5 separate regions of the Homo sapiens genome follow, and all the other regions are linked to region 4. The links come from fine-mapping of genetic effects on gene expression. A gene starts in region 4. Each other region holds a variant in brackets. All regions are shown on one strand. Distances are between the middles of the regions.

Region 1 (4,116 bases), 55 kb before region 4:
TAGGCAGAGCATCCCCTAAGGTTGCTGGCTGGATATTTTTTATAGTTATCTCTTGATTACATGCCCAACAAGGGTGGATTATTCATGAATTTTCTGGGAAAGGCACGGGCAATTCCTGGAACTGAGGGTTCCTCCCCACTTTTTTTTGAGACAGAGTCTTGCTCTGCCACCCAGGCTGGAGTGCAATGGTGCAATCTCAGCTCACTGCTACCTCTGCCTCCTGGGTCCAAGCAATTCTCCTGCCTCAGCCTCTGGAGTAGCTGGGATTACAGGCGCCCGCCACCATGCCCAGCTAATTTTTGTATTTTTAGTAGAGACAGGGTTTCACATCTTGGCCAGGCTGGTCTTGAACTCTTGACCTTGCAATCCACCTGCCTTGGCCTCCCAAAGTGCTGGGATTACAGGCATGAGCCACTGCGCCCGGCCGGTTCCTCCCCTTTTTAGACAATATAGGGTAACTTCCTGATGTTGCCACGGCATTTCTAAACTGTCATGGCACTGATGGGAGTGTCTTTAGCATGCTAATATATTATAATTAGCACATAATGAGCAGTGAGGACGACCAGAGGTCACTTTCTTTCTATTTTTTGAGATGGAGTTTCACTCTTGTCATCCAGGCTAGAATGCAATGGCACGATCTTGGCTCACTGCAACCTCCGCCTCCCGGGTTCAAGCAATTCTCCTGCCTCAGCCTCCTGAGTAGCTGGGATTACAAGCATGTGCCACCACGCCCAGCTAATTTTTTGTATTTTTAGTAGAGACGGAGTTTCTCCATGTTGGTCAGGCTGGTCTCAAACTCCTGGCCTCAGGTGATCCGCCCGCCTGGGCCTCCCAAAGTGCTGGGATTATAGGCGTTGAGCCACCGCACCCAGCCTACCAGAGGTCACTTTCATCGCCACCTTGGTTTTGGTGGGTTTTGGCCGGCTTCTTTGCTGCAACCTGTTTTATCAGCAAGGTTTTTTGTCACCTATGTCTTGTGCCACCCTCCTGTGTCATCCTGTGACTGGGAATGCCTCACCTCCTGGGAAAGTAGCTCAGTGGTGATGCAGGGTTTTTCTAGGCACCTTCGCTGGACTCATGGAAGGGATGCCCCATCTACTCAGCCCCCTGTGCTCAACCCCTTGCAGGAGGGAGCACACAAGTGACTAAGTGTGGGATCTGGCCAGCTGGCTTCTCCAGGCACCAACACAGGAGCAAGCTGTATGCAGGGCCCATGGCCAGAGCAGGCATGTCACCTTGAGGGGAAAGCAGCAGCACCTAGGTGAGGGTGCCCGTGTCCCCGAAGCTGCAGAGGGGGTGTTATTACAGTGCTCCTTTAGTTCTGCTGTCCACAGATGGTGACATGTCAGCAGATCAGCTGGCCCCTTGCCTCATCACATGGGGACAGCTGCCCTTCACAGGCGAGGGCAAAGGCCCAGTGTGACAGCCTTTCTGGGTATCCTCACTCACTGGGTCCCAAGCTCTTGTCCAGCATCCAGGAAGAATGAAGTTACACGGACGATTGAAGGATGATGAAGGTGGAGAATTTTATTGAGCAATGAAAGCGACTCTCAGTGGAGAGGGGAGCTGGAGAGGGGATGGGAAGTGCAGGCTGCCTTCCCCGAAGTCAGGTCGTCTTTTCCCCTGCTGACTGAGTCTGGAGCCTTTATAGGCACAGGGTGGGGAGTGTGTGCTGATTGGCTTGTGAGTATGCAAAAAGGAGTAGTCCCAGCTATTCAGGAGGCTGAGGCTTGCTTGAGGGATCCCTTAAGTCCAGGAGTTGGAGGAATGTCTTTTGTTATTTATAATGAGTCCTTTTGATCACACTGGAGTTTATGCTAATGAGGTGAGTTAAAGCAAAGACACTACTCAAAGGTGGTCATGAAAGAGTAGAAAACCGCCGGGCACGGTGGCTCATGCCTGTAATGCCAGCACTTTGGGAGGCCAAGGCGGGCAGATCACAAGGTCAGGAGATTGAGGCCATCCTGGCTAACACGGTGAAACCTCATCTCTACTAAAAAATACAAAAAATTAGCCGGGCGTGGTAGCAGGCGCCTGTAGTCCCAGCTACTGGGGAGGCTGAGGCAGGAGAATGACATGAACCCGGGGGGTGGAGATTGCAGTGAGCCGAGATTGCACCACTGCACTCCAGCCTGGGTGACAGAGC[G/A]AGACTCTGTCAAAAAAAAAAAGAAAGAGTAGAAAACCAATTAGGAAAGGGTGGGTATATGTAAAATAGGCGAAGGGTGGGGATCAATCAGAGGAAAGCGCGACAAACAGGAAGGTAAGCTCTCAATCCGGTCTAAGGTTTAAACTTGTACCTTCAGTTTCAGGCTTTAAACCGTCTTCGGGTTGGAGGTGGGGTTTCACCGCGGACCCGCCCCTATTGGCCTAGGCAATTGGCTGCCTCCTGTCAATATCAGCAGGTCTCAGCCTCATTTTACCCACCCCCTATTCAAGATGGAATCACTGTGGTTCAAACTCCTCTGACAACAGTAGCTTGCTCCAGATCACACAGCTAATACAAATTGACTCACAAACTCTGGTCTACCCATCATTCAAAGAGGCAGGAAGGTATAGGCCAAACACAGGAAAAGCAGCAGTAACGATAAACTGTGTCTAAAAGACCGTCTTTTCCCCCACAGCACAGGATGAAGTTGAAGTTACTTTCTCTGCCTAAGATCCAGACATCCCCCCTCAACAAGGAAAACAATTGTTTTTTTTTCTTCTCCTTTCTATAAAATCAAGAATGGAACCACACCTGAACAGACTCTTCCGCAAGATAATGTCTCCCTCAGGCTCATTGAAATTCCAAAGAGAATTATGTACAAGTTAATCTCTGTTCCTAAATCCATTCATTCTCCCCAGCAATGTTTATTTTTATTTTTATTTTTATTTTTATTGAGATGGAGTCTCACTCTGTCACCCAGGCTGGAGTGCAGTGATGCCATCTCAGCTCACTGCAACTTCCTCCTCCTGGGTTCAAGTGATTCTCCTGCCTCAGCCTCCTGAGTAGCTGGGATTTCAGCTATGTGCCACCATGACTGGCTAATTTTTGTGTTTTGAGTAGAGACAGGGTTTCGCCATGTTGGCCAGGCTGGTCTCGAACTCCTGACCTCAAGTGATCTGCCCACCTTGGCCTCCCAAAGTGCTAGGATTACAGGCATGAGCCACTCTGCCTAGCCCCCAGTAATCTTTTATGTCCCCTCAATAGAATTCCTCTTTCTTCCCCCTGCCATAACCTGTTTTACCAGGATCCAAACCCCTATTCTTTCTGTATCTGCAAGATAGTATATCTATATCTATAGATATCGATATCTATAGATATATATACACATGTCTATATATATAGATATGTATACATATAGATATAGATATATAGATATCTATAGATATAGATATGTATACATATCTATATATATGTATATAGTGCCAGGCACAGTGGCTCATGGCGGTAATCCCAGCGCCACTTTGGGAGGCCAAGAGGGGAAGATCACTTGAGTGCAGGAGTTCAAGACCAGCCTGGCAACATGGCGAAAACCCAGTCTCTACTTAAAAAAAAAAAGAAGATGGTATATAAGCGTCTGAACGCCTTTGGGGTGGTGGGTAATCACGCTGTGGTGTGGTTCTCCCCAGATACGTGTGAATGCAATTTGTATCCCCCTTTTTCTAATTAATCTGCCTTTTGTGAGCTGATTTATCAGCAAACCTTCAGAAGGTGAAGCAGAAGTTTTTTCCTTGGTTCCTACAATCTCACTTCTATGCACATAACAAAATTTCACATGCACCCTATAAATATGGACAGCTACGATGTATTAATAATATTAGGCTGGGCATGTTTGCTCACACCTGTAATCCCAGCACTTTGGGAAGCTGAGGCAGGAGGATGGATCACTTGAGCCCAGGAGTTCAAGACGAGCCTGGGCAACATAATGAGACCCTCATCTCTACAAAACATAAAAACATTAGCTGGGCATGGTGGTGCACTCCTGTAGTCCTAGCTACTCAGGAGGCTGAGGTGGGAGGATTTATTGAGGCCAAGAGTTTGAGACCAGCTTGGGTAATATTATGGGACTCCTCTCTATAGAAAATAAAATTAAAGGCTGGGTGTGGTGGCTCACACCTGTAATTCCAGCACTT
Region 2 (4,116 bases), 49 kb before region 4:
AGGAAAATAAAGGAATAGCCGGGCGCAGTGGCTCACGTCTGTAATTCCAGCACTTTGGGAGGCTGAGGCAGGTGGATCACCTGAGGTCAGGAGTTCGAGACCAGCCTGGCCAACCTGGTGAAACTCCATCTCTATTAAAAATACAAAAATTAGCTGGGTGTGGTGGTGCATACCTGTAATTCCAGCTACTCGGAAGGCTGAGGCAGGAGAATTGCTTGAACCTGGGAGGCAGAGGTTGCAGTGAGTCAAGATTGTGCCACTGCACTCCAGCCTGGGCAACAGAGCGGGACTCTGTCTCGAAAAAGAAAAAAAAAAAAAGAATAGGAAAGGAATAAAGAGTGACTCCTCCATAGGCAGAGCAGTGGCATGGGCTGCTTGACTGAGTATACTTACAGTTATTTCTTCATTCTATGCTAAACGAAGTATGGGTTATTCATGAGTTTTCCAGGAAAGGGCAGGGATTTCCCAGAACTGAGGGTTCTTCCTTCTTTTAGACCATATAGGGTAACTTCCGGGTGTTGCCGTGGCACTTGTAAACTGTCATAGTCCTGGTGGGAGTGTCTTTTAGCATGGTAATGTATTATAATTAGTGTATAATGAGCAGTGAGGATGACCAGAGGTCAGTTTCATCACTGTTGGTGGGTTTTGGGGCTGGCTTCTTTACTGCGTCCTGTTTTTGTTTTCTTTTTTTTTTTTTTTTTTGGGATGGAGTCTCGCTCTGTTGCCCCGTCTGGAGTGCAGTGGTGCGATCCTGGCTCACTGCAACTTCTGCCTCCCGAGTTCAAGCAATTCTCTTGCCTCAGCCTCCTGAGTAGCTGGGAGTACAGGTGCCTGCCACCATGTCTGGGTAATTTTTGTATTTTTGGTAGAGACAGGGTTTCACCATGTTGGCCAGGCTGGTCTTGATCTCCTGGCATCAAGTGATTTGCCCGCCTCAGCCTCCCAGAATGCTGGGATTACAGGAGTGAGCCACTGTGCCCTGTCAGCATCCTGTTTTATCAGCAGGGTCTTTGTGACCCGTATCTTGTGATACCAGTCCTGCCAACCTTCTGTCTCATCCTGTGAATAAGAATGTCTCACCTACTGGGAATGCAGCCCAGCAGGTCTCAGCCTCATCTTACCCAGCCCCTATTCAAGATAGAGTCACTCTTTTTCAAATGCTTCCTTCCAAAAACAAAGGATAACAGGCTGGGCGCAGTGGCTCATGTCTGTAATCCCAGCAGTTTGGGAGGCTGAGGTGGGCAGATCACTTGAGGTCAAGAGTTTGAAACCAGCCTGGCCAACATGGTGAAACCCCGTCTCTACTAAAAATACAAAAATTAGCTAGGGGTGGTGGCACATGCCGATAATCCCAGCTACTCGGGAGGCTGAAGCAGGAGAATCACTTGAGCCCAGGAGGCGGAGGTTGCAGCGAGCCGAGATGCCATCACTCTACTGCAGCCTGTCCAGCAGAGTGAGACTCTGTCTCAAACACACACACACACACACACACACACACACACACACACACACACACACACCACAAAGGATAACAGGAGACAGGAAAATTAGAGGACCATCTGAATCTTAATGTTTTCAAGGTGATTGCAAAAAAAAAGGGGAGAGACAAAGAAGATATGAAGTATTCTGTAAAATGTAAAAAAAAAAAGTCTAAGACCTCAGTAGAGAAAATTATGAAATATTTGTTCACAAAACTTATGCATTTTTTTTTTTGAGACGTAGTTTCGCTCTTGTTGCCCAGGCTGGAATGCAATGGCACAATCTCATCTCTCTGCAACTTTCGCCTCCCGGGTTCATTGATTCTCCTGCCTCAGCCTCCTGAGTAGCTGGGATTACAGGCATGCACTACCACACCCGTCTAATTTTGTATTTTTAGTAGAGATGGGGTTTCACCATGTTGGCCAGGCTGGTCTCGAACTTCTGACCTCAGGTGATCCACCAGCCTCGGCCTCTCAAAGTGCTGGGATTACAGGTGTGAGCCACTGTGCCTGGCCTTCCCGTCTCTCTTTTTTAGTATATCTGCTGCCAAAGGGAGCACCCGTCTCTCTTTTTAAAAAAAAAGAAGGAAGGGGCCGGGCGCGGTGGCTCACGCTCACGCCTGTAATCCCAGCACTTTGGGAGGCCGAGGTGGGCGGATCATGAGGTCAGGAGATCGAGACCATCCTGGCTAACACGGTGAAACCCTGTCTCTACTGAAAATACAAAAAATTAGCTGGGCGTGGTGGCGGGCGCCTGTAGTCCCAGCTACTCAGGAGGCTGAGGCCGGATAATCGATTTAACTTGGGAGG[T/C]GGAGCTTGTAGTGAGCTGAGGTCCCGCCACTGCACTCCAGCCTGGGCGACAGAGCAAGACTCCGTCTCAAAAAAAAAAAAAAAAAAAAAAAAAAGGAAGGGAGGGCGGGAAGGAGGAAGGGAGGAAGGGAGGGAGGAAGGGAGGGAGGAAGGCAGGCAGAAGATCTGAAGAAACATGAGTGGCCACTAAACACGTAAAGATGCTCAACTATAGAGGAAATCAGGGAAACTCAAATTAGTACCACAGTAAGATACTGTATTGTACCTGTTAGTCTGTAAAAAATTAAAAAGATCTGGACAACGAAGAATCTGATATACTGCAAGTGAGACCATAAATCACTAGAACTGCTTTGAGAAACAATTTGGCACTTTTCTTCCTTTCTTTTCTTTTCTTTTTTTTTTTTTTTTTTTTTTTTTTCATGAGACAGGGTCTGGCTCTGTCACCCAGGCTGCAGCACAGTGGTGCAATCATAGCTTACTAGCTTACTGTAGCCTTGAACTCCTGGGCTCAAGCAATCCTCCTGCCTCAGCTTCCCAAAGTACTGGGATTACAGATGTAAGTCACCTTACCTGGCCTTTTTCTTTTTTCTTTGTTTTTGAGCTGGAGTCTTGCTCTGTTGCCCAGGCTGGAGTGCAGTGGAGCAATCTTGGTTCACTGCAACCTCCGACTCCTGGGTTCAAGTGATCCTCCTGCCTCAGGCTCCTGAGTAGCTGGAATTACAGTGATCCGTCCCAAAGTGCTGGGATTACGGGCATGAACCTCCGCACCTGGCCTTTTTTTTTTTTTAAATTTATAGAGGAAAAGGCTGGTCGAGGTGGTGTGGTGGCTCACTCCTGTAATCCCAGTACTTTGGGAGGCCGAAGCAGGCAGATCACTTGAGGCCAGGAGTTTGAGACCAGCCTGGCCAACATGGTGAAACCCCGTCTCTACAAAAAATACAAAAATTAGCCAGGTGGTGGCTGGTGCCTGTAATCCTAGCTACTCGGGAGGCTGAGGCAGGAGAATCGCTTGAACTCAGGAGGTGGAGGTTGCAGTGAGCTAAGATTGTACCACTGCACTCCAGACTGGGTGACAGAGTGAAACTCTGTCTCAAAAAAATAAAAAATAGTATAATTTAAATCCCCAAATAGGATAATTGACTTTTTTTTTTCTGTGCCACCACGCCTGTCTAATTTTTGTATTTTTAGTACAGACGGGGGTTTCACTATGTTGGCCAGGCTGGTCTCGAACTTCTGACCTCAGGTGATCCACCTGCCTTGGCCTCCTAAAGTGCTGGGATTACAGGCGTGAAGCACCAAGCCCAGCTGAGTTTGGAGCTTTAAACAAAAGAGATCCACCAGCATAAGCCCTAGTCGAATGATCTATTGATCATTAAGTGTTGCCCTGTTTATGGAAGATTTACCAATACTTGAAAAACGACTTTAATTTGGTATTGGAGCTTCTTTTTTTTTTTTTTTTCCTGAGACAGAGTCTCGCTCTGTCGCCTGGGCTGGAGTGCAGTAGCGCGATCTTGGCTTACTGCAACCTCCGCCTCCCAGGTTCAAGTGACTCTCCTGCCTCAGCCTCCCGAGTACCTGGGATTACAGGCGCACGCCTCTATGCTGAGCTAATTTTTATTGTATTTTTAGTAGAGACGGGGTTTCACCATGTTGGCCAGGCTGGTCTCGAACTCCTGACCTTGTGATTCGCCTGCCTCGGCCTCCCAAAGTGCTGGGATTACAGGCGTGAGCCACCGTGCCCGGCCTGGAACTTCTTAAAGTAGAGTTTTGAAGTTTTTTGTGAGCAGTTTTGGACCAATCCCAGAAGGAAACGTAGCATATTTTATAT
Region 3 (4,116 bases), 29 kb before region 4:
GTCTTGCTATGTTGCCCAGACTGGTCTTCAACTTCTGGCCTCAAGTGGTCCACCTGCCTCAGCCTTTCAAAGTGCTGGGATTACAGGAGTAAGCCACCATACCTGGCCCAATTTTATCTTTTTTTTTTTTTTTTTGAGTTGGAGTCTTGCTCTATTGCCCAGGTTGAAGTGCAGTGGCACGATCTCAGCTCACTGCAAGCTCTGCCTCCCAGGTTCACGCCATTCTCCTGCCTCAGCCTCCCAAGTAGCTGGGACTACAGGCGCCTGCCACCATGCCCAGCTAATTTTTTGTATTTTTAGTAGAGACGGGGTTTCACCGTGTTAGCCAGGATGGTCTCGATCTCCTGACCTCGTGATCCGCCCACGTCGGCCTCCCAAAGTGCTGGGATTACAGGCGTGAGCCACCGTGCCTGGCCTAATTTTATCTTGAATATTCCCAATAAGCAGGTGAGGTCTATGTTTTTTGCTTTTCGGGTTTGATTTTTTTTTTTTTTTTTTGAGGCAGAGTCTCCCTCCCGTGGCCCAGGCTGGAGTGCAGTGGCACGAACACAGCTCATTGCAGCCTCAACTTCCCAGGCTCAAGCGATCCTCCCACCTCCACCTCCTGAGTAGCTGGTACTATAGATACTCACCACCATGCCAGCTAATTTTTTAATTTTTTTGTAGAGACAAATTTTTTTATTTTTTTGCCATGTTGCCTGGCTGGTCTCAAACTCCTGGGCTCAAGCAATCTGCCCATCTTGGACTCCCAAAGTGCTGGGATTACAGGTGTAAGCCAACACAGATCTCTGTTATTTTTTATTTTTTTTGAGATGGAGTCCCACTCTGTTGCTGGAGTGCAGTGACGTGATCTCGGCTCACAGCAACCTCCACCTCCCGGGTTCAAGCAATTCTGCCTCAGTCTCATGAGTAGCTGAGACTACAGGCACCCACCACCACGCCCAGCTAATTTTTGTATTTTTAGTAGAGAGGGGTCTCACTGTGTTGGTGAGGCTGGTCTTGAACTCCTGACCTCAAGTGATCTGCCTGCCTCAGTCTCCCAAAGTGTTGGGATTACAGGCGTGAGCCACTGTGCCTGGCTTGTTGCTGTTTTAAAAACAGGGGCTCGCTCTGTTGCCCAGGCTGGAGTGCAGTGACACAATCAGAGCTCACTGTAACATTTACCTCCTGGACTCAAGGGATCCTCCCACCTAGCCTTCCAACTAGCTGGGACTACAGGCCCATGTCACCATGCCTGGCCTGACTCTAACGGTATTAAGAGGCAGGGCCTGTAAGAGGTGATTGGGTCATGAGGGCTCTGTATGAATTAACAGATTAATGGGTTATTGAGGGACCAGGTTAGTTATCACAAGAGTGGGTCTGTATAATGGTCAGTTTGGGGGTCTCTTGTCAGCCCCTCTTGCCATGTGATGCTTTTTTTTTTTTGAGACGGTGTCTGACTCTATCACCCAGGCTGGAGTGCAGTGGCATAATCTCAGCTCACTACAACCTCTGCCTCCTGGGTTCAAGCAATTCTCCTGCCTCAGCCTCCCGAGTAGCTGGGATTACAGGCATGCGCCACCATGCCTGCTAATTTTTGAATTTTTAGTAGAAACAGGGTTTTGCCATGTTGGCCAGGCTGGTCTTGAACTCCTGGCTTCAAGTGATCCACCCACTTCGGCCTCCCAAAGTGCTGGGATTACAGGCGTGAGCCACAGTGCCTG[A/G]CCTTGTTTTGTTTTGTTTTTTTGAGACAGGGTCTGGCTCTGTCTCCCAGGCTGGAGTAGAGTAGCACAATCTTGGCTCACTGCAACCTCTACCTCCCAGGCTCAAGTGATCCTCCCACCTCAGCCTCCCAGGTAGTTGGGACCATAGGCTTATGCCACCACGGCTGGCTATTCCGTTTTGTATTTTTGGCAGAGATGGGCTTTCGTAATGTTGCCCAGGCTGGTCTCAAACTCCTGAGCTCAAGCAATCCACCTGCCTTGGCCTCCCAAATTGCTGGGATTTTAGGTGTGAGCCACTGTGCCCAGCACATTTCTGTTGTTTTGAGCCATCTGGTTCACAGTACTTCATGATGGCAGCCCCAGGACACGAATACACCACCTCTCCAGATGGGCATGGTTACTCGCTCCTGTGCTTTTGGTGGAGAACCGGGCTCTCCTCCCTTGACAATCCTTAGACACTGGGCTCTTTGCCTGCCCGTCCCCTGCTTAAATATCCACCTAAAGCCTCCTCTTTTTTTTTTTGAGATGGAGTCTCGCTCTGTCACCCAGGCTGGAGTGCGGTGGCGCGATCTTGGCTCACTGCAAGTTCCGCCTCCCGGGTTCACACCATTCTCCTGCTTCAGCCTCCCAAGTAGTTGGGACTACAGGCACCTGCCACCACGCCCGGCTAATTTTTTATATTTTTAGTAGAGATGGGGTTTCACCGTGTTAGCCATGTTGGCCAGGCTGGTCTTGAACTCCTGGCTTCAAGTGATCCACCCACCTCGGCCTCCCAAAGTGTTGGGATTGTAGGTGTGAGCCACAGTGCCCATGTTAGCCAGGACGGTCTCGATCTCCTGACCTCGTGATCCGCCTGCCTCGGCCTCCCAAAGTGCTGGGATTACAGGTGTGAGCCACTGTGTCTGGCCAAGCCTCCTCTTTCAGGAAGCCTGCCCTGACCACTCCAGCCCATACGCCTATGCCCCCACTCTGTGGCCCCCAGATGCTGGTGCTGTCTGGTGTAGCCCATGGCCACTCTGCCATGGGCTGTGCTCTATGAAGACCACGGTCCTGGTCCTTTGTAGCTTACATGTCACTTTCTCCTTCATTGATTTATGAGACCCTCCTACCAGCCTGGGACTCTGATGGTCCACCATGAGTCAGTGGCAGAGACAGGACTCAAACCCAGGTCTGTCTGCCTCCTGACCCTGCGCTCTTCCCCACGGGCTGCTGCCCCCCACCCCCACCTCAAATTGAAGTCATGGAGGCAACATGGAGGGGCCTCCAGTTCTGGGAAGGCCCTGAGGCTGGGGTTGGATGGGCTCCTGCTGTCTCCTGACACCCAGCCACGTGGGGCCCTGGTACTCACCTCGCGGACCAGGCAGTTGTGGGAGTTGAGGTCTCGGTGGATGATGTTCATGGAGTGGAGGTAGGCCTAGGGACGGGGACACGGGAGTCAGGGGGCAGCTGTGCAGAGGGACCCCAGCCCATCCTGGCTCCCCAGGAACTCCCTCTGCTCCCACCCCAATCAGGCCAGTCGGGACGATTCTTCCCACTCTCCCATCGACCCCCTCTGCCCTCTTTCAAAGCTTCTTTGTGGGTTCTGTTTGCAAATTCCTGGTGGGATTATGAATGGAGCTAGAGCACCCGGCTCACTCACCATCCCTGATGCGATGTCCTTGGCAAAGCTCACTCTCTGGCTCCATGGGTACTGGCTGTCCTGGGATGGAGAAAGAATGGCCAGGGTGGGGCCGGTGGGGGCCCCGATGGCAGGGATGGTTGCATGAGACAGAGGCAGGAAGAGGCAAGCGTCCTAGAGGGTCCCTGGGCTCCCCAACACCCCGATTTCTTCGGGCACCCACAACTGTCTGCTTCTAAGGAGTATGAGTCAACACAGCTCACAGACATTATTTCCTTTTTTTTTTTTCTTTAGATGGAGTCTCACTCTGTCACCCAGGGTGGAGTGCAGTGGTACCATCTCAGCTCCCTACAACCTTCGCCTCCGGGGCTCAAGTGATTCTTGTGTCTCAGCCTCCTGAGTAGCTGGGACTATGGGCATGCGCCACCACACCCAGCTAATTTTTTGTATTTTTAGTAGAGACGGGGTTTCACCATGTTGGTCAGGCTGGTCTTGAACTCCTTACCTCAGGTGATCTGCCCACCTTGGCCTCCCAGTGTTGGGATTACAGGCATGAGCCACTGCACCCGGCCTCAAGCAATTCTCTCGCCTCAGCCTCCCAAGTAGCTGGGATTACAGGTGTCCACCACCAAACCCAGCTAATTTTTGTAGTTTTAGTAGAGACAGGGTTTCACCATGTTGGCCAGGCTGTTCTCAAACTCCTAACCTCAAGTGATCCACCTGCCTCAGCCTCCCAAAGTGCTGGCATTACAGGCGTGAGCCACCGCACCCGGCCCCTACAAACATTATTTCCTA
Region 4 (4,116 bases):
TCCAGAGGCTGACACAGGAGAACTGCGTGAGCCCAGGAGGAAGAGGTTGCAATGAGCCAAGATCGCACCACTGTACTCCAGCCTGGGTGACAGAGCGAGACTCCGTCTCAAAAAGAAAAAAAAATAGATAAATAAAATGACAACAGGAAGGCCTGTAGGGATTTTCTAGTCAAAACACCTCATGTCATAAATGGTAAATTAAGGCCACGAAGTCACAATAGGGGACGGCACCAGGAGGCATATCCCGGCCTCCCCCATTCCTTGACCAGCCTGTCCTCTCTGGCAGGCCTTGTTTAGGGCAACACAGGCCCTGGGCACCCCACCCTACCTGAAGCAGTCTGCGTGCCAGTCCGCGTTCAGGGCCTGGAGGTACTGGCCATCATAGATCCTCTGGCCGCAGCTTGCACACACGGGCAACTCGCTTCCTGCAGGGTGGGAAGGGAGTTGGGAAGCATTCTCAGGAAGTGTGATCTGGTGCAGGCCCAGCTTGCCCTGCCCACCCCACATATACCTACACCTGCACCAATCCTCGCACACTGCACATGTGCAGCGCCCAGGCAGGGCAGTCGCTGTGCCAAATAGGAGAAGAAAGGGCGCTGGCCTGAGTCTTGCTGAGATACTGACTAGGTTGCCAAGCTTCTCTGGCCCTGTTTCCCTATGTATCAGCTTAGGAGGAGGATCAGGTCCATCCTCCCGCTATAGCATTGGATCTGGCAAGGTAAATGAGGAGAAAGGAAGCAGTGGCTTTAGGGATAAGGCAGTGGGTGACATTCCTATCACAGCCTCCTTTCTTCCCTCTCCTGCCCAGGAAGAAGTACTAAGAGGGCCCTTCAAAGGCAGGGACTGGACAGGGCTGGATTAGTGCATCCTGGGCTGAAGCCAGCTGGGAGGTCAAGGGCAGGAAGCCTGGAGGTGCCGGCCCTAACAGATCCTTGGCAATGAATGCCCTGGCTTGGCAAGGGGAGGGGGCTGCAGACCTGGGTACTCCCAGACACCTGTCCCAGGGAGGCCTGGCACCTCCTCTAGCCAGCCACAGGCATGCTTAGTCATCCTTGGGGCCTGGCACCCTTGGAGCTGGTGGGCCCTGGAAAATGCCCCAGACCTGCCCCTCTCCACTGTACAGAAGGGGAGACTGAGCCCCAGAGATGGCATGGCTTGCCCAGTCACATAGCTAGGTCCCAAGGCCACAACAGCCTGACCCTCTGTGAAGACGCAGGTACCTTAGGTAGGCAGGGGCTACAGGAAGGTGGGCCCCTACCCCAATCAGGTTTTCATGGGCCTGGGAAGAGTTGGTGGCAGGGGGAGGTGTGGAGTCAGGCCCTGCCTTGGGGCCAGGTGGATCTAAGTGACAGGTCAGCGAAGGAGATCCAAGGAGGGGCCCCCAGACCCTGTCCTAGGCTGGGGGAGTCCTTGAACCCTAACTGCAGTGCAGTACTGCGCCTTGGGCCCCAGTGAGGGAGAAGGGGCTAAAGAGGAGGTTAGGATGAGTCATGCTCCCAGCCAAGACTGAGGGCAGGCACCGGGTTTGGGGCACGGACAGGGAGAGTGGATGAGGCTCCCGCAGTACACGGCCTCCGGCTTCCTGGACGCCTATCTCCGCTCTACCCATCTGGCCCCCAATCACCGACACCGGGGGGGCAACTACCCAGTTTCCAAATGTACAGAAGGGGAAACTGAGGACCAGGAAGTCAGCGCCTGGCTCAAGGTCACAGAGCCGGGCAGGCGCCCGGCGGCCACTGGGACCCGGGGCTGCGGCTTCCCCAGCCGCTCTTTCTTCCGAGACTGGATAAAGGGTGGCCCCAGGGCGAGGCCCGGGTGGTGGACAGAGCACGCGGATGGAGGCCGACGCGGGGTGGGCAGTGTCTGGGAGTCCTTCGCGGGGGGACGTGGGAGGAGGAAAAAGGGTCCAGGGGCCCCCAGACCCGCAGGAGGGCAGCTCGCCGGGGGCCGGGGAGGGGGATCCCGGGCGGGAGGGGGACAGGGAGGGGCCTGCGGGCTTCGTAAGGACGAGCTCATCCCGGAGGAGGCAGGGGCGCGGCCTCCTGGCAGACCCGGCCCCCTCCCGTGCCCCACGCTGCCCCGGGCACCCCCTCCAGGCCCTCGCCCCACACCCCGCGGCCCGCGCACCTTCCTCTCCCATACGTTCTTCCCTCCAGGTGCAACAAAGTAGCGTCAACCTCATGCACTCGACGGGGGGCGGGGCCCGGCGGGGCTGGGGCTGGGGGCGGCCGGGCCCGCGAGCTCGCCCACCGCCGCCGGCCCGGGGAGGCGGGGGCGGAGGGCGCGGGCCGGGCCGGGCCGGGCCGGGGGCGCCTCTCGGACACCGGCGGGGAAACCGGCTCGGCGCCGCGGCGGCTTGGGGAGCGAGCGGAGGGGCGGACCGAGGCGGGGCCTGTGAGCTGCGGCACGGGGGCGGGGCGCGGGCGGCCGGCGGCGGGAACGGCCCTGCGCGGCCCCGCCCCCACCAGAAAACCCCGCCCCCACGCCCAAGGCCACGCCTCTAGAGGCCACGCCCCGCTGCGGCCCGGCCTGGGGGCGCCGCGAGCTGGCGCGGCGCGCCCCGCCCCTCCCCGCCCCTTCCGCCCTTCATTCATTCTTCTTTCTCCCAGCGACAGGCCTCGGCTGGGAGCTGCGAGGCCCAGCTGTCTCGGAGGGCCGCTAGCTCTGCTGGGGCAGGCCAGGAGGATGTAGGAGCCTAGAGAAGGGGCCTCCGCTTCCCTGCGCGAGGCCCCCACAGACCCAAACCAGCTGCAGCCGGGAACTCGGATCAGAGCTGGAGAGGCCCTGTGGACCCCCAGGACACTGGTGGTCGCCTTGGGGAGGGGAGGGAGGCGGGCCGGGTTTTGTCCCTCTCTCTGAGGCCTGCATTGAGGCCAGGCTGGGCCCGGGGAAGGTGACGGTCCGCGTCTCAGGCCTCGCGAATGAGCAGCACCAGAGAAAGGAGCGAGCCCCTGCCAGGCGGTGACAGGTGTACTCTTCTCAGTGCCGATTACCTGGAGCTGGGGCTGCCCTGCCCAGGGTCCTGGAGGGAGCACGGGTTTGGGCTGAGTCAAGCGTCCAAAGGAATTGGGTGGTCCAGTCCAGCACTGATGGTGGAACGCCCTGCCTAGATGTGGACAATTCTAGAATGCTGGACATGGGCAGGAAGCAACCCTGTCCCCCCTAGGTCTACCTTCCACGTCATCCCTCTGCCCAGGAAGCAGTGACCGGAGTGGAGCCACGTGCCCACGTGAACCCAGTGAACAAGAGGCAGCGCTAGCCCAGCTCCAACTCTAGTCATCATGTTTGTGGGGAGAGGTCTAGGCACGTCTGCAAAGTGGGGGGCACTCACCCCTGGGTGCAAAACAATTACGTGGGGTGGGAAGAAAATACTAGATTTTTTTTTTCTTTTTTTAGATTCGGTCTCGCTCTGTTGCCTAGGCTGGAGTGCAGTGGCGGGATCTCGGCTCACCGCAGTCTCCACCTCCCAGGTTCAAGCAATTCTCCCACCTTAGCCTCCCGAGTAGCTGATATTACAGGCGTGCACCACCATGACCGACTAATTTTTGTATTTTTAGTAGAGATGAGGTTTCACCATGTTGACCAGGCTGGTCCTGAACTCCTGACCTCAGGTGATCCACCCTCCTCGGCTTCCCAAAGTGCTGGGATTACAGGTGTGAGCCACCACGCCTGGCCAGAATTTTTAATTTCTCATGAGAAAGAAGGCTGGGCACAGTGGCTCACACCTATAATCCCAGCACTTTGGGAGGCCAAGGTGGGAGCATCACGTGGGGCCAGGAATTGGAGATCAGCTTAAGCAATGAAGTGAAACCCTGTCTCTTCTAACTTTTTTTTTTTTTGAAATGGAGTTTCACTCTTGTTGCCCAGGCTGGAGTGCAATGGTGCGATCTCAGCTCACAGCAACCTCCACCTCCCGGGTTCAAGCCATTCTCCTGCCTCAGCCTCTGGAATAGCTGGGATTATAGGCATGCACCACCATACCTGGCTAATTTTGTATTTTTAATAGAGACGGGGTTTCTCCATGTTGGTCAGGCTGGTCTCGAATTCTGGACCTCAGGTGATCCACCCACCTTGGCCTCCCAAAGTGCTGGGATTACAGGCGTGAGCCACCGCGCC
Region 5 (4,116 bases), 180 kb before region 4:
CTCTCACCCCACAGCCTGCGCAGTGCATCCCTGAACCTAGGATAGTCCCTGGAGTATAAATTGTTGTCTTGGTTGGAATCTCAAAGATTCAGAATTTTCCTTTTTTTTTTTTTGAACCGCTTGAACCTTGGAGGGGGAGGTTCAAGCGTTTCTCCTGCCTCAGCCTTCTAAGTAGCTGGGATTACAGGCACCCGCGACCATGCCCAGCTAATTTTTGTGTTTTTAGTGAGAGACGGGGTTTTCACCATGTTGGTCAGGCTGGTCTTGAACTCCTGTCCTTGTGATCCACCCACCTTGGCCTCCCAAAGTGCTGGGATTACAGGCATGAGCCACCGTGCCTGGCCTTTTTTTGTTTTGTTTTGTTTTGATTTTGAGAAGGGCCGTGCTGGATCACCCAGGCTGGAGTGCGGTGGTGCTATCAGAGCTCATTGCAACCTCGAACTCCTGGGCTCAAGCAATACCCCCCACCCCCTATCTCAGCCTCCCAAGTAGCTGGGACTGTGGGTGTATGCTGCCCAGCCTGGTTTAGGATTTTCAGAATGACACCCAGCATCCAACAGCCTCAGGTACGAGGAAAACATTTCTACCTGTGAGATACGACCTTCTTGGAATAGACACTCTCAGGGCTTCCCGAAGAATGTGGTGAGCGTGTCTGCACAGAAGCAGGCGTGCTAAAAACAGAGCATGGTTTAAAATGCCCACGGCACCTTCTACAGGTAATGAAACCCACACTTGGAGATTTCTGGGGTTAGGAACATAAAATACACCTCCCAAATTGGAGCACCAGCTGGCCAGATTAGACCGAGGTGCACCGCTGTATTTCCAGTGGATATGGTGTTGGAATGGTGGATACAACCTTGTTTTGAGAATAATGAGATTGCTGTTGAAAAGGAATGTCAAGCTACTTAGGTGAGGTGTCATCTTTTCTTATACGCAGTTAATCACTCCCTAACTGATCCTGCGTGGACATGTAGATGTTTGTTTTTTTTTCAGTATAGAACTTCTTAGCTTAAAGTGGGCTCGCTGTCAAAATATCTCATGTCACAGATAACCCATCAGGAAGAAGAAGAAAAAAACCCCGACCTGCTAAACAGCCTAAAAAGGGCATGCTGGGGCACTCAGGTTTCTGGTAGGAAAGTCCTCAATCCCCACTCACAGCCCGCTGACCCTGCATTTTTTTTTTTTTTTTTTTTTTAAAGATATGCTCTCATTCTGTTGCCCAGGCTCTGGAATGTAGTGGTGCAATTATGGCTTACTGCAGCCTTGACCTCCTGGGGTCAAGCAATCCTCCCACTTCAGCCTCCCAAGTCGCTGGGACCACAGGCACATGCTACCATGCTCAGCTAATTTTTGTTGTTGTTGTTAGAGATGGGGTCTTGTCATGTTGCCCAGGCTGGTCTTGAACTCCTGGGCTCCAACAATCCTCCTGCCTCAGCCTCCCAGGTAGCTGGGACTACAGGCACACACCACCACACCTAATTTTTTTTGTTTTAATACAGAGTCTCACTCTGTCACCAGACTAGAGCGCAGTGACATGATCTTGGCTCACTGCAACCTCTGCCTCCCAGGTTCAAGCAATTCTCGTGCCTCAGCCTGGCTAATTTTTGTATTTTAGTAGAAACGGGGTTTCGCCATGTTGGCCAGGCTGGTCTCAAACTCCTGACCTCAAGTGATCTGCCCACCTCAGCCTCCCAAAGTGCTGGGATTACGGGCATGAGCCACCACACCTGGCCTAATAATTTTTTTAAATTATTTTTTATAGAGACAGAGCCTTGCTATGTTGCCCAGGCTACTCTGGAACTCCTGGGCTCAAGTGGTCTTCCCACCTCAGCCTCCCAAAGAAACATTAAAAAAAAAAAAAAAAAAAACAGCCGGGCGTGGTGGTTCACCCCTGTAATCCCAGCACTTTAGGACGCCTAGGCAGGCAGATCACGCGGTCAGGAGTTCAAGACTAGCCTGGCCAACATGGTGAAACCCTGTCTCTACTAAAAATACAAAAAATTACCCCGGCCTGGTGGTGGTGTGCGCCTGTAATCCCAGCTACTCGGGAGGCTGAGGCAGGAGAATCGCTTGAACCCAGGAGGCGGAGGTTGCAGTGAGCCAAGATCGCACGCACCACTGCACTCCAGCCTGGGCAACAGAGCGAGACTCTGTCTTGAGGGAAACACACACACACACACACACACACA[G/CAG]ACACACACACAGGATTCTATCAGGAGTCTATGCTGCTTTTTCTGGACTGTATTTTTTTAGGGGTCACAGAGACCTCTTTCCCTGTCAGTACAGGCAGACAGCCTTCATTTTTCAGTGACTGTATAGTATGAATGTACCATAATTTACCTATGCATTCTGACACTGATGGGCATTTATCTCATTTCCTTCCCCTCTTCCCCCATTCTAAGCTGCTGCAATGAACATCCTAGTACATATATATCTTTGTGCACATGTGTAAGCATTTATGTAAGACAAGTTTCTAAAAGCGGGCTTCTGGGTCAAAGAGTGTATACTTCTAAAGCATTGCTAGAAACTGACAAATTTAATGTACGATTTGTAGAGAAAAGAAAAATGGGCAGACAAGTCACAGAAGAGGAACTACAAAAGGTCGACACACATAGTAAAATGCTCTACAAGACAATGAAAATTGAAACAGGCTGGGCACGGTGGCTCACGCCTATAATCCAAGCACTTTGGGAGGCCGAGGCATGCGGATTGCTTGAGTCCAGGAGTTCAAGACCAGCCTGGGCAACATAGCAAGACCCTATCTCTACAAAAAATACAGGCATGGTGATGTGTGCCTGTGGACCTGGCTACTGGGGAGGCTGAGATGGGAGGATCCCCTGAGCCCAGGAGGTTGATGCTGAATTGAGCTGTGATTGCACCACTGCACTCCAGCAGGTGACAGAGTGAGACCCTGTCTCCAAAAAAAGCAAATTGAAATAGCACTCATATATATACACATGTAATATCTATTGCATGTAATACATTTATATATATACATGTAATATCTATTGCATGTAATATATTTATATGTATACATGTAATATGTATTACTGTGATATATTTACATGTATATATTTGCACAGGAGATTAGTAAACCAAAAAAAATGCATTCTTGGCTCTCATCCACCATTGGTGGAGGGATAAATGGGATAAAATGAACTGAGCTTGGTGCTCTCTAGTCCCCCACCCCTCATCAGATTTAGAAGGGGCCACAGGTGACCGGGCATGGTGGTTCATGCCTATAATCCCAGCACTGTGGGAGGCCAAGGCAGGCGGATCACTTGAGGTCAGGAGTTCGAGACCAGCCTGGCCAACATGGTGAAACCCCATTTCTACTAAAAATACAAAAATTAGGTGGTGTGCGGTGGCTCACGCCTGTAATCCCAGCACTTTGGGAGGCCGAGGCGGACAGATCACGAGGTCAGGAGATCGAGACCATCCTGGCCAACATGGGGAAACCCCGTCTCTACTAAAAGTACAAAAATTAGCTGGGCGTGGTGCCACGTGCCTGTAATCCCTACTCGGGAGGCTGAGGCAGGAGAATCACTTGAACCAGGGAGTCAAAGGTTGCAGTGAGCCGAGATCGCGCCATTGCACTCTAGCCTGGCGACAGAGCAAGACTCCGTCTCAAAAAAAAAAAAAAAATTAGCTGGGCATGGTGGCAGGCGCCTGTAATCCCAGCTACTCAGGAGGCTGTGGCAGGAAAATCGCTTGAACCCGGGAGGCAGTGGTTTCAGTGAGCCGATATTGGACCACTGCACCCCAGGCTGGGTAAGAGAGCGAGACTCTGTCTCAAAAAAAAAAAAAAAAAAAAGTGGTTGCAGGAAGGTCAGGGCTGATGTGCTCACTGAGGACAGGAAGGAGGGAATGCTTAGATGAGTAAACAGACTAAAATTAGAAGTAAAGAATCCAAACAGCCTATGACCTAGGCCGTATAGTGTGGGGGGAGCAGCCTGTCTCCCATCCATCGTCTCTGGGGTCAGCCCACATCATGATGCATAAACATTTGACCTCTATACCATCAGGAAAAGTCCTGTACCCTTTTCGTTTTCAAAGAAGGCAAGAGACCAGGCCAGTGGCTCACGCCTGTAATTCCAACACTTTGGGAGGCCAAAGCAG

Which allele goes with the higher level. Alleles are on the strand shown, and positions count from the first base shown. SD is a standard deviation of normalised expression in the study named. Not every link is listed here.
As copies of G replace CAG in region 5, the expression in CD8 T cells of the gene that starts at base 2,369 in region 4 goes up (large effect, 2.0 SD a copy in CEDAR).

Evidence for each region.
Region 1: its variant is fine-mapped to the expression of LIMK1 in whole blood (TOPMed, PIP above 0.99).
Region 2: its variant is fine-mapped to the expression of LIMK1 in whole blood (INTERVAL, PIP above 0.99).
Region 3: its variant is fine-mapped to the expression of LIMK1 in whole blood (TOPMed, PIP above 0.99).
Region 5: its variant is fine-mapped to the expression of LIMK1 in CD8 T cells (CEDAR, PIP 0.92).

The regions. Positions count from the first base shown.
Region 1 is chr7:74,136,883-74,140,998 of GRCh38, reverse strand. No RefSeq gene overlaps it. Among named protein-coding and RNA genes, the nearest start is that of EIF4H, 35 kb to the left of the region's middle. RefSeq lists an enhancer at 1,645-2,174. The variant G/A (reference allele first, on the strand shown) is at 2,147.
Region 2 is chr7:74,130,817-74,134,932 of GRCh38, reverse strand. No RefSeq gene overlaps it. Among named protein-coding and RNA genes, the nearest start is that of EIF4H, 41 kb to the left of the region's middle. RefSeq lists an enhancer at 1,083-1,870. The variant T/C (reference allele first, on the strand shown) is at 2,289.
Region 3 is chr7:74,110,934-74,115,049 of GRCh38, reverse strand. LIMK1 (LIM domain kinase 1) reads right to left here. Exons shown (of 16, transcript NM_002314.4): 11 at 3,343-3,402; 12 at 3,052-3,117. Among named protein-coding and RNA genes, the nearest start is that of LIMK1, 29 kb to the right of the region's middle. The variant A/G (reference allele first, on the strand shown) is at 1,704.
Region 4 is chr7:74,082,057-74,086,172 of GRCh38, reverse strand. It overlaps LIMK1 (LIM domain kinase 1), which reads right to left and starts at 2,369. Exons shown (of 16, transcript NM_002314.4): 1 at 2,128-2,369; 2 at 329-425. The coding sequence starts at 2,182. RefSeq lists enhancers at 1-444, 445-1,044, 1,556-1,825, 2,312-2,990, 2,886-2,995 and 1 more and silencers at 2,016-2,065, 2,176-2,225, 2,346-2,615.
Region 5 is chr7:74,265,034-74,269,149 of GRCh38, reverse strand. No RefSeq gene overlaps it. Among named protein-coding and RNA genes, the nearest start is that of RFC2, 13 kb to the right of the region's middle. RefSeq lists an enhancer at 2,816-2,865. The variant G/CAG (reference allele first, on the strand shown) is at 2,190.